2 separate regions of the Homo sapiens genome follow, and region 1 is linked to region 2. Evidence: fine-mapped expression QTL. Tissue or cell type: sun-exposed skin. Region 2 holds a variant in brackets; the other region holds the start of a gene. All regions are shown on one strand. Distances are between the middles of the regions. Region 1 holds the start of LINC02871 (long intergenic non-protein coding RNA 2871). Region 2 overlaps JAG1 (jagged canonical Notch ligand 1).

Evidence for each region. PIP is the estimated chance that this variant, and not a neighbour inherited with it, causes the effect. A credible set is the group of variants that fine-mapping cannot tell apart.
Region 1: LINC02871 starts here. The variant in region 2 is the best candidate, but not a certain one, in a credible set for the expression of LINC02871 in sun-exposed skin (GTEx, PIP 0.56).

What each region holds. Positions count from the first base shown.
Region 1 is chr20:11,024,196-11,029,578 of GRCh38, reverse strand. LINC02871 (long intergenic non-protein coding RNA 2871) reads right to left here and starts at 3,035. Exons shown (of 4, transcript NR_146878.1): 1 at 3,005-3,035; 2 at 1,673-1,828; 3 at 1,295-1,417; 4 at 213-388.
Region 2 is chr20:10,666,657-10,672,039 of GRCh38, reverse strand. All of the region lies in intron 2 of JAG1 (jagged canonical Notch ligand 1), which reads left to right. Among named protein-coding and RNA genes, the nearest start is that of JAG1, 4.7 kb to the left of the region's middle. RefSeq lists silencers at 1,249-1,298, 1,349-1,398. The variant C/T (reference allele first, on the strand shown) is at 1,976.

The sequences.
Region 1 (5,383 bases), 360 kb before region 2:
ATGAAGGAGCTCAAGATCATTCCAAAATTTTGGTTGTGAAAAATACACTAGTGAAGTTAAAAGGAACAACAGATTGAGTAGACATTAAGGTGTTAAAGAGGTCAACAATGGTGAAGAGCTGTGTTTCATTTTAGATGTAATTTTTATGCTAGGATTTAATCCCAGTATTTAACCCGCAAGAAGATGAAGAAAGTAGTTTTTGAGGAGCATTGTCAGGGCAACTCCAAGAAGATATATTTTGCTAGGATGGTACGCCAAGTGATCCTGGTCTGATTTTGTTTTTCTTGTGAAATGATTTTGCATTTCTTCTTCAGCATCTTCAGCTTTTCATTGAAAGACTAGTTTTGTTTCTTGCTTCATTTTTGTTTATATTTAATCCATGACAGATCTATAAGCAAGAAATATATATGTTACTGATGTTTGTTCATGGAAGCCACTGAGAATCTGAGGTTGTTTGTTACACCGTATTATTGTAGCAAAATCAGATTAATACACTACCTCTGGAAGAAAATAACATTTGCTTGAGTATGAGTATAAGAAAAAGGAGAAAGGGCTGGGCACGGTGGCTCACGCCTGTAATCCCAGCACTTTGGGAGGCTGAGGAGGGCGGATCACCTGAGGTCAGGAGTTCAAGACCAGCCTGACCAATATGGTGAAAGCCCATCTCTACTAAAAATACAAAAATTAACTGGGCGTGGTGGCAGATGCCTGTAATCCCAGCTACTCGGGATGCCGAGACAGAATTGCTTGAACCTGGGAGGCAGAGGTTACAGTGAACAGAGATCGTGCACTGCACTCCAGCCTGGGCAACAAAGCAAGACTCCATCAAAAAGAAAAGAAAAAAGAAAAGAAAAGAAAAGAAAAGAAAAGAAAAGAAAAGAAAAAGGAAAAAGGAGAAGGAAGTCAAAATTTATTCTGAAATATAAAACTGGGTGACTGAGAATGAAAATATCACTTCTATTGTATACTTACGTACTGCCATGTTAAAGACGTGAAAGAAAAGATTCATATCTTTCTTTTATTAATTTTCTATGTATAGTTTTTTTATTTTTATGCATTTATAATAGTAAATAGCAGTACTGTTTTTGGAGGTTTCTGAATATATTGTGGGTCACATACCCTGCAGAGACTAAGATGAAAACCATATATGTTTTCTCCGGGGAAAAAAGATCAACAAATTACCTTTTATAAATCATCTCCTCACAAACCTAATCTGAAAAGAGAGTTAAAAAGGAGATAAAGAGGGAAGGCTTGTGACGATATTCTCCCTACTGAATGTTGGAACTTTCTTTACCTTTCCACATGTCCTCTGTCTGTCTTTAGATTGTGATCAAAGAAGAGTAGGTCTCCTTCTGTATTCTGAACAGGGCTATAAAAAGTGTCTTCATCACAGTTTGAAAAATGCCAACCAAGATCACTGTTTGAGAGATGAGTTAAGATATATAAAGCATTGTATCTAAAGTGAGCAGTGTGTATAAAATGGCACTCATTAATTTTCAAAGCATTGTATCTAAAGTGAGTAGTGTATATATAATGGCACTCCTTAATTTTCAATCTATTCATTAAAAAGTATATCAGAGGAAAAAGAAAAATTAAATTAACTTACTTTCCTCAAAATTGGAATACAGAAAAATATTATTTAATGGAAAAAATGTATTTGATATAAACTTACAGAAGTATGTCCATTCCAGATTAGCAATTATCTCTCCAAGACTACTCATGAAAGGGGCAAATTGGAGCCAGTATTAAAGGTATGATGATTTGTTTCCTTCAACTAATAAGACCCCAGGGCCTCCCACAGGACTCCTTGCAGCCTTCTCCCTCAAACCTTTCAAAACACAGAGTATAATATTAGGCACACCTGAAAGGAACAAAAAAAAACTGAGCCAAAGCAAGATAAAGGGAATATGTATACAAATATCTCAGCAGTTTCCAGGTTGACCCCATCCAACAAGTTTCCACTTGTTCTTTTGACCCTGGGAATCTACTTATAATAATTTTTACTTGAAAGGTGGGAGTTACATTTGAAGCAATATGAGAAAATTCTCAAAGCAGCAAAAATAAAATTGTTCTTTGCCTTGGCCGGCCATAATTACTTCATTGCTATGACATATGACATCATAGTTAGTCCTCAGGCTCGGGGGTGTTTCTAATGAGCTGGAGTTGGAAGGGTCCCAGTGGAATGCAGTGAACCAAAAGACCCACTGTTCTTCCAAATTCCAACATGATATCAGGAGGGAAAACAAAGGGCTCTTCAAGATTCAGAGGTCAACCTGTTCAGCATCGCATCAAAAGGTGGCAATAAGGCAAAAGGAGGTTTCAGGGCATAGGAAAAGGCCACTGTCACCTATTTCTACATCTAATTCAACAACAATGATACTGAATATGAATATTTTCAGTAATTTATGAGACCAAATTTGAGTATTTTGAAAATATTCTGTTAACTTGATATGTTATCACATTGGATCCTTGCCACAGGACTGTGTCCAAGGGAAAATTATTGGTTGCCAGTGCATACATACTATTTTAAATAAATGACTTTGTAATGAAAAATTTAAAACTATACATAGGGAAATAATGAAAACAGTGACAAATATGTTTATCCAGCACATGAGCGAGGTCCTTTTCTGCTCCCTTAGCACAAAGGACCCTCAGAGGTGCAGCCACCTTCCCGGGGGCCCATATGAGCCATTCACCATATACTCCCTTCTGGGAATATGTCTAATGATTTAGCCAATTTATCAGCAAGACAGCCCAGTGGCTAATGCCAGCATCAACTCACCAGAGGTCACAGAAGCTAACAGAAGCCTCTTCCATAGGGCAAAAGTCTTTGAAATGGACATGAGTATCTCTTTCCTAGTCCTGTCACTGGCCCCCAGTGCCCAGCTGGTTTAGGGTACTTAGACAAACTTCTTGCCTTAGAAATCTCCAAACAAAAATGACCAATAGTATTCAGTTTTTTAAAAGACTCACACATTTCAGGACAGACTGATTCAACACATACCCTGCTACAAGAAGGTTGGAGCAAAGAGGAGATATATACTTCCTCTGGACTTCTCAGACATGCTATAAATGTTTTTTGGCAAATCCCAAGATGAGATCACAATTATGGTGGAAGAGTTTAGTACAATTACCTAAAAAATTTTTTTAAAAAGTAGAAAAATATAACTAGAAATATAAAAGATTTGAATAAATAACAGCTTTGACATAATATATCTGAATAAAGACTTTTATAGCCAACAAACATAGACTATATATCATTTTATTGTTATATAGTGAAAAATTTTCAAACACATGAAAGTATAGAGCACAGGATAGTGAAATTTCAATGTGCCCATTAGGTGGCTTCAACAATTATTAATATCATGTAATCCTAATTTTCTTCATTTCTCACCAGTTACTTCTATCCTCCTCATGTTTCTCTCCCTCGTCCTCTTTTTTTCTTATGGAGTAATAGAATATATATTTTTTAAACGCTTGTGGTCGAATGGTTGCAAAACATGGCTCCAATTCTTCACACACCTACACATATCCTTGCTCTTTTCCATGTCACTTTTCAGTGCTGTCTCAACATGAGCAGCATAACCTTCCAACCCCCTGACTCTGAGCACAGATATGCAACTTATTTTAACCCAAACAATATTAGCAGGAGTATCAGAGAACTGAAAATGTGCTTCTGCCTTTTTTTGGTCTCTGCAATCCCATGAGGAAATTCCTAATCTACCTGACTAGAAGTTGAATGTCCTTGTTATCCTAGCTGAGGCCAGCCTAGATCAGCCAAGAGCCACTCAGCTCCCAGACCATCAGACGATCCTAGCCAAAAGCAGCAGAAATTTCCAACCAACCATCCCTGGACTGTGAGTAGTAAGTGCTTATTGTTGCATGCAGCTGATAATTTGTGGTCGTTTCATAGCATTACATAATGGTAGATACATGACACAGAACCTAAGAATTATATGTACTATTTATTTTTTGTCAAAACATAAAAGGAAGCACACAAAAACACCACCCCCCCATACATACACAAAAATATTGGGTAGAAGATAGATAGATAATATTTTAATTACTCAAAAAAAAATCACATAACAAAGTAGATGTTAATATTAAAACAGAAAGTAAGTGAAAGAAGAGAGAACAAAGTAAGAGGTGGTAGTCCTGCCTTTTGAGCTTTGTGCTGGACAGAGTTGCTGGTAGCCTAAATTCAACTCCTGCAGGAACATGTGGCCTTTCACAACCAGAGACAAAAGCTGGGGCCACTGTATGAGTCGGGGTTATATTTAAGGCCGCTGGAGAAGAAAGATTGACTGAGAAAAACAGCCACCACCCCACATACATTTATGTGGTCAACTGATTTTCAGTAAGGGTGCCAAGACAATTCAATAGGGGAAAGGAGTAGTCTTTTCCAAGCAAATGGTGTTGAGGCTACTAGATATCCACCTCAACGAGAATGAAATTGGACTCCTTCCACAAACCATATACAAAAATTTATTCAAAACAAAAGTCAAAATCAAAATTTTTTAGATCAAAAATCTAAATGTAAGATCTAAAACTATAAAACTCTCAGAAGGAAACATTGGTGCCAGGATTTATGACCTTGTGTTAGACAATGATTTCTTGGATATGACACCAAAAGCATAAGCAACCAAAACAAAATAAATAAATTGGACTTCATCAAAATTAAAAACATTTGTGCTTCAAAAGACATCATTCATAAGGTGAAAATAAAACTCACAGAATGGCAGAAAATGTTTCCAAATTTTATATCTGATAAAAGTCCGGTGTCCAGAATAAAAATATCTGGCATAAAGAAAGGTTTAGTTATTATTTCAAATCAACAATAAAATACAACCCTATTTTAAATGGGCAAAAGACTTGAATAGATATTTCTCCAGTGAAGATATAAAATAAGCACATGAAAAGATTCTCAACATCATTAGTCATTAGGGAATGCAAATCAAAACCACAATATGATACATGTTTATACCTACTAGGATAGCTATAATCAAAGATACAGAAAATAACCAGAATTATCTGGGCTGTAGAAAAATTGGAATCCTTATCCATGGTTGGTGGGAATGTAAAATAGTGTGGCCACTTCGGAAAATCTTAAAAAGTTAAACATAAATTTTTAGCCAGGTGCGGTGGCTCAAGTAGACAATCCCAGCATTTTAGGAGGCTGAGGCAGGTGAATGACCTGAGGTCAGGAGTTTGGGACCGGCTTGGCCAACATGGCGAAACCCCATCTCTACTAAAAATACAAAAATTATCCAGGTGTGGTAGCGCACGCCAGTAGTCCCAGCTACTCAGGAGGCTGAGGAAGGAGAATCGCTTGAACTAGGGAGGAGACAGAGGTTCCAGTGAGCTGAGATCGTGACACTGCACT
Region 2 (5,383 bases):
GTGGTGTAGCTCTTGTGGCCTCACTTCCAGCGGTTCCCGGGCTCTGGAACAGCTGTGTTTGCAGACTTCCCCGGGAAGGGCGGGTGCACGGCCCCCGCAAGCCTTCGGGGGCCGTGCCAAGGCTTGGAAGGGGTGGTCTTCTGGAGGTAGTGCCTGAGGGTGTAAGTGATAGGCCCTCATCCCCCCGCCCCATTCCGCCCCCAAAGGAGCTCGAGGCCCGGGCCCAGCTGGCAGATCCTGCAGCGAGGCCCTTGCAACATCCCAAAATGGGTGGAAGGAAGATGGGTGCGATTGCAGAAGGGGAGGAAAGGGAAATGTTGGGGGTGTGCCCTCTGCCTGGCTCCTGCTGTCCAGGAGGCATGACTCATTGCCAAGACTGGGGCTTGGCCTAGCCTGTGCTGGGAGGGTGGGTGGTGAGAGGGGGAGCTCGGTGCCCCAGAGCATTGCTTTCCACCACGTGCTCTAATGGGGTGCACTCTGCTGCCTCCTGTCCGCCGGCTTAGGTTGTGATTCTGGGAGGAGACAGAGGGGAGACTATCTGGCTGTGTCTGTGTATGAAGCTTGGGGTGGCTCTTAAAATCCACGATTACAGGAGCTGGCATTATAAAGTGCCCTCTGCTGTGGGTGAGATAAGACAGTTATCAAAAACTGCCATGAAAAGGGGTTTATAAAAAGAAAAATTAAAACCAACGCTGTCTGTGAAGCTCTCTTGAGGTCCAAGGGCTGTTTCTGTTGTGGGATTTCATTTTTACCAAGAGTATTTATCTTGTTTGTTAATCCCCTATTAGGGAGAACTTTAAGCTAAAGAGTCTGGCTGCGTTTAAATCTGGCTGGCCCAAGCTGACTGTGAATACTCAAACTGCCCTTGAACGTGTGTTTGGAGTTTAGGGGGAAGGGGCCTGCAGGTGGTTCCACCCTCCTGCCGGAGGATCTGTCTGGAGCCCCTCGCTTTTCACAAGACCATAAAAGGAATCTTATTAGTGATGTGGAAAAGCAGCAGCCTGGCTGAGGCTCATTTTGGAGAGTAGGGTCAGAGGGATGGCTAACATGAAAACAAGGAGGCTTGCTCCCTCGCTGGCCAAGGAAAAGTGACCTAGAAAAGTGCGTCTGTCCGCTTTTGACACTTGGTCAGAGTCCTCAATGGAAAACGAGCGGAAATAGTGTGGGAGGGTAGGAGAGGCGATTGATTTGCATTTGCTGGTGCTCTTCTGTGGTTTCAGGCCCCACGGGTCACCAACCATGAAATAGACTCTCGGCTTTTCTCGAATGGGGGAAGACCGATGGGGCACCACTGAAAATGTGGTTCTTTTGAAGTTGGGACAAACGCATGTATCACTCATAAACAAGTCTCCACCCTGATGCCCCAGAAAGGCCTGCTGTGAAACATAAGATTTAATTCTCAAGAGAAATTGGAGTTTAGGTGTATTTGTTTTTCTGTATGTGGTTGGAGAAACGGCACAGTCCGTAACTTTCAAGAATGATTCCAGGCTGAGTAGAAACGTAACTGAAACACTTAAGTAGCTGAGCGAGTATTTAACTAGAGGGCACAGCTTCATTTAGTTTGGCAATTAACTATGTCTTTTAAAACTGATTTCCTTGAATGGGAAATAAATGAACTTAGTACAGAATTCAAGAGATAGCAAGAAAAGGATATATGGTTAAAAACAAAACAAAACTCCAAACCACCTTGGGCTCCCAACCCCTAGCAGGCACAATTACCATTTGCATGAGTCCTCCCAAATTTGCTGACGCTGGGTATCAGCAAAGGGTGCAGGGGTAGGTCAGTGTAGAAGGTCATGTAGTTCATGCTTTTTGTTTGGAATTATGACCCCTATCCAAGCAACTGTTCATGTTCTAGAGAGGACGAGGAGGAAACGATTTGGTCAGATATGAAATACAGTCCATGTTCTGGTGTGCATGTGAAAGGCTTTGTAGAGGTGGCCCTTCCTGTCATATATCATATCTGAGTATGTCC[C/T]ACGTGGTGTCCCCTGCCCCGGCTCTGGTCTTGGGGTAGTTTTTCACCACTGGCTTCTAATTCTCATACTGTTGCTGCTCTAAGGGGCTTAACTTGCAGCAACTATCTGGATTAATGATTCTCAAATTGGGGGACCAAGTGATAAGAACCATTATTGTGGGAAGTAATTGGGCTTAACAGGAAATAATTTAGGAATTACCACTTATAAATCACTGAAACGGTTAATCTGTACCTCCCAAAATTAGTGCTAAATCCCAGTAGTGCCTGCTTATTAAAAATACATTAGTGTAATTACCACTACTCATCTCCAAAAGCTTTTTGGGAACTTCAGAACCCCAGTTAGCTGTATTGCTGCATCGGTGGCCCCAGAGTGAAATGAATCTAGAGAAACGTTAGGGGAAGAAATTGGGGTATCTGGCTTATTAGCCTCATATTTAAATTCCATTGATCCTATTAAAAGACTTGCTGAGATCAACTTTTTTTTTTTTTTTTTTTTTTTTTTTTTTTTTTTTTTTTTGGAAAATCCAATGAAACGTGATTCTTCTGTGTGAGGGATGCCAGCTTTGGCCCCCTTCATGCTTCAGGCCTGAATGACCAATTGCCACGATGCTAATCACAGAATGTAATTGACAGGCCCTTACTTTTATGCCTTTTGCTGTCTTTTCCAGTCCCTGAGCTTCTGTAGATATGGTGTGGGCACATGGAGGGCTTAAGGATGGGGTTCTGATTTGACCTGCCTCCTTTCTGCAGCCAGGATTTGCATCCTGCCCGTGTAGTCAGCATGTATACAAAGAAAGAGCATGTGTGTACGTATGTGCTCAGAGCAAGGGACTTTCTGCATGTGGAGAAAACGCCTTTTGCCCTAAGAAGTCTACCTCAAACCAAAGGGATGAAGTGATGTATCTGTGTTGCAACACTGGGCTTGGGGGAAAGTGAAGCTGTGCTTGCTTTGAAAGAGCTGTGCTAAGTATCTGCAGAATAGCTGCTCCAAAAATGGAATCTTTATTCCAGGTACTTGGTTTCTAATTTTTTTTTCTCTTGCAGGTGTAACCTTCTGTGTTTTCTTTCTCCTTGTTGTCTTGTTTCTTAGCAACTTATTCAAACCTCCAGTACTTATAGGAATTTGCAACCCACCAGTTCCACACCCGTAATTCTACAGGGACTTAAGATGTTTTTAGAAAACGGTGAAACTTTGGCGTGGAGGCTCTTGGGGGAGTTCAGTGGGTTAAAAGGAGAGTCAGCAGCAACTTACAGGCATGCAACCTCCCAGAAAATCAGCAATCTAAGTGCTGCTCAAAATCTTCACACCAAATAGTGGTGCCTTTGGGGACCTTTTAGATAGAAGACGTGGAAAGTTTAGCATGGAGAAAAAAGTTACTTAAAAAAAAAAAAACAGTGTCAAGGTAACAAGGAGCCTTCACAGTTCCTGATCTGAAAACAGGAATGTGAACCAGAGGCCTTGGCTGGATTCATATCACCCACTGGCCCCATTGTAGAAGGGCCAGAAGTTGGTCCCAATGTCCGGCTTTCAAGGTTAGTGACAATGTAAGAATGCATGATCTCTGGATGTGCATACAATTAGCGTTGTAATCCATAAATGCAAATACTCCTGCAAATTCTTCCATGGTAAACTTCTGTAAGGCATGTTGCTCTTCCACCTACCCCCATCCTTCAAGCCTAGGATCTAGGCTGCTGAGAGAAGTGACTCTTGGCTTCAGCTTTTAAATATATATATATCTCTCAAAACTTAATCTTTTCTTCCAACTGTTGGAAGATACATTGGGATGAATGGAAAGTGGTGATTCTAAAATGGTGGTGGAAATGGAGGAGGGTCCTGGGTTCAGAAAAATCCCACCTTTACTTTGGTGCATGGCACTGGGTGGCTGTGTTGTGACTTCTTTGCTGATTTCTGATTACCGCATGGACCACAGCAGCCCTGTGACTGCTGTTTTTTTTTTTTTTTTTTTTTTTTATGGTGCCAGTGACATCTACCATTGGTGCAGTGCGTGTGCTGGGAAGAAATTCCGCAAGGTGGCTCCCAGTAGTTAAAGGAGTACATAAATAGTCAAACATGCAGAGTCCTCTACCAGCTCAACCCAGTTTTTATGCACTTTTGGTAAATAAACAGAAAGGCTTCTTGTTCAGGCTTGCTCTGTGTGAACCAGACCGTTGTGCTTGGCTGGCTTCTTGGTATTCTATCTATTAACCTCGCCACCCTTTTGTAACTGGTGCATTTAATTATCAGTGGGATGCTTTTCAAACAGGTAAGGGTAATGATGGGAAAGGGGGTGGGGATGTCTCATTGAGAGTCACAAATCTGGATATGAGCTTTGGGGCCCCTTGGTGAGCCTTTGAGTGGGCTTTGATGAGAAAATCACCCTTTGTAACCAGATCGGACTCTATTGACATGTCAAGCCCTACAGACTTGATTGCTTTCTGTGCCTGAAGTCTTAGCCTAGATGCTATAGGATAGTTGTCCTTTCTTATCTCACTTTCCCAAAACCCACTCGCATTGTGTGCATGAGTACGTGTGCATGCGCCACACATGGACTCCCTGCAACCTTTTCTGCTTAATATGTTTTGTGACTGGAATATTTTATACTCTGGCCACCCAGACACAGGCAGGACAATAGAGTTGGCCGAATTGACTGAAATGAGGATTATGGAGAATAATAGGGCCTCTCCAAAAATAATGCTAACACAGGACAAGCGACAGGAAGCAACAGTTGAGTCAGCAGAGCTCAGGGCCCCTGACGAACCCTGGGAGCCGACTGACTGTGCACAATGGCCGCGTTGGCACGTCGGGCATTCCCAGGATGTGCGTGCCGCCGGCGGGCCTGCCTGTCGCAGCAGCCTGGGGTTTTGGACGCCGCACGCGTGCCGTTTGGATGGCGGTTTATTTGTGTCCGTCAGCTTGGCAGGAGGGGAGGCAGCCGCTTCTCAGGGCTTGGTTTGGCTGTCACTGTTGCCAGGAAAAGGAAGCTCCCGGCTGCCAACACAATTACCTTTGTTTCTTACATCCCCCCTTCTTAATGTGGCAATTAAGTGCTTACCGCTCTGCCCAGTGCCAAGGTAACCGCCATGGAGTGGGACAGGGCAGAGAACACAACCTTGGCACAGCAGCCTAAGTGTGGAGGGCGGGAGGAGGTGCAGGGGCCCCAGCCTTGCTGGGAACCTGGTGGCCCTTGGATGCCTTGGGGCTTTGATGCCAGGACTCTCCTCTAGGTAGAATTCCACAGAAATCTTCCAAAAAGCAATTCCGAAGGCTGACCATTCCTCTTTGATGCCACACCAGAATGGGAACCAGCTGCCAGGTTTCCAGATTTCCTTGGGCTTGGAGCTGGGAAGGGGCTGAAGTGACTCACTTTGCAAATCCAGACTAAAGATCTGTTTGCTACCCCTCCTTCC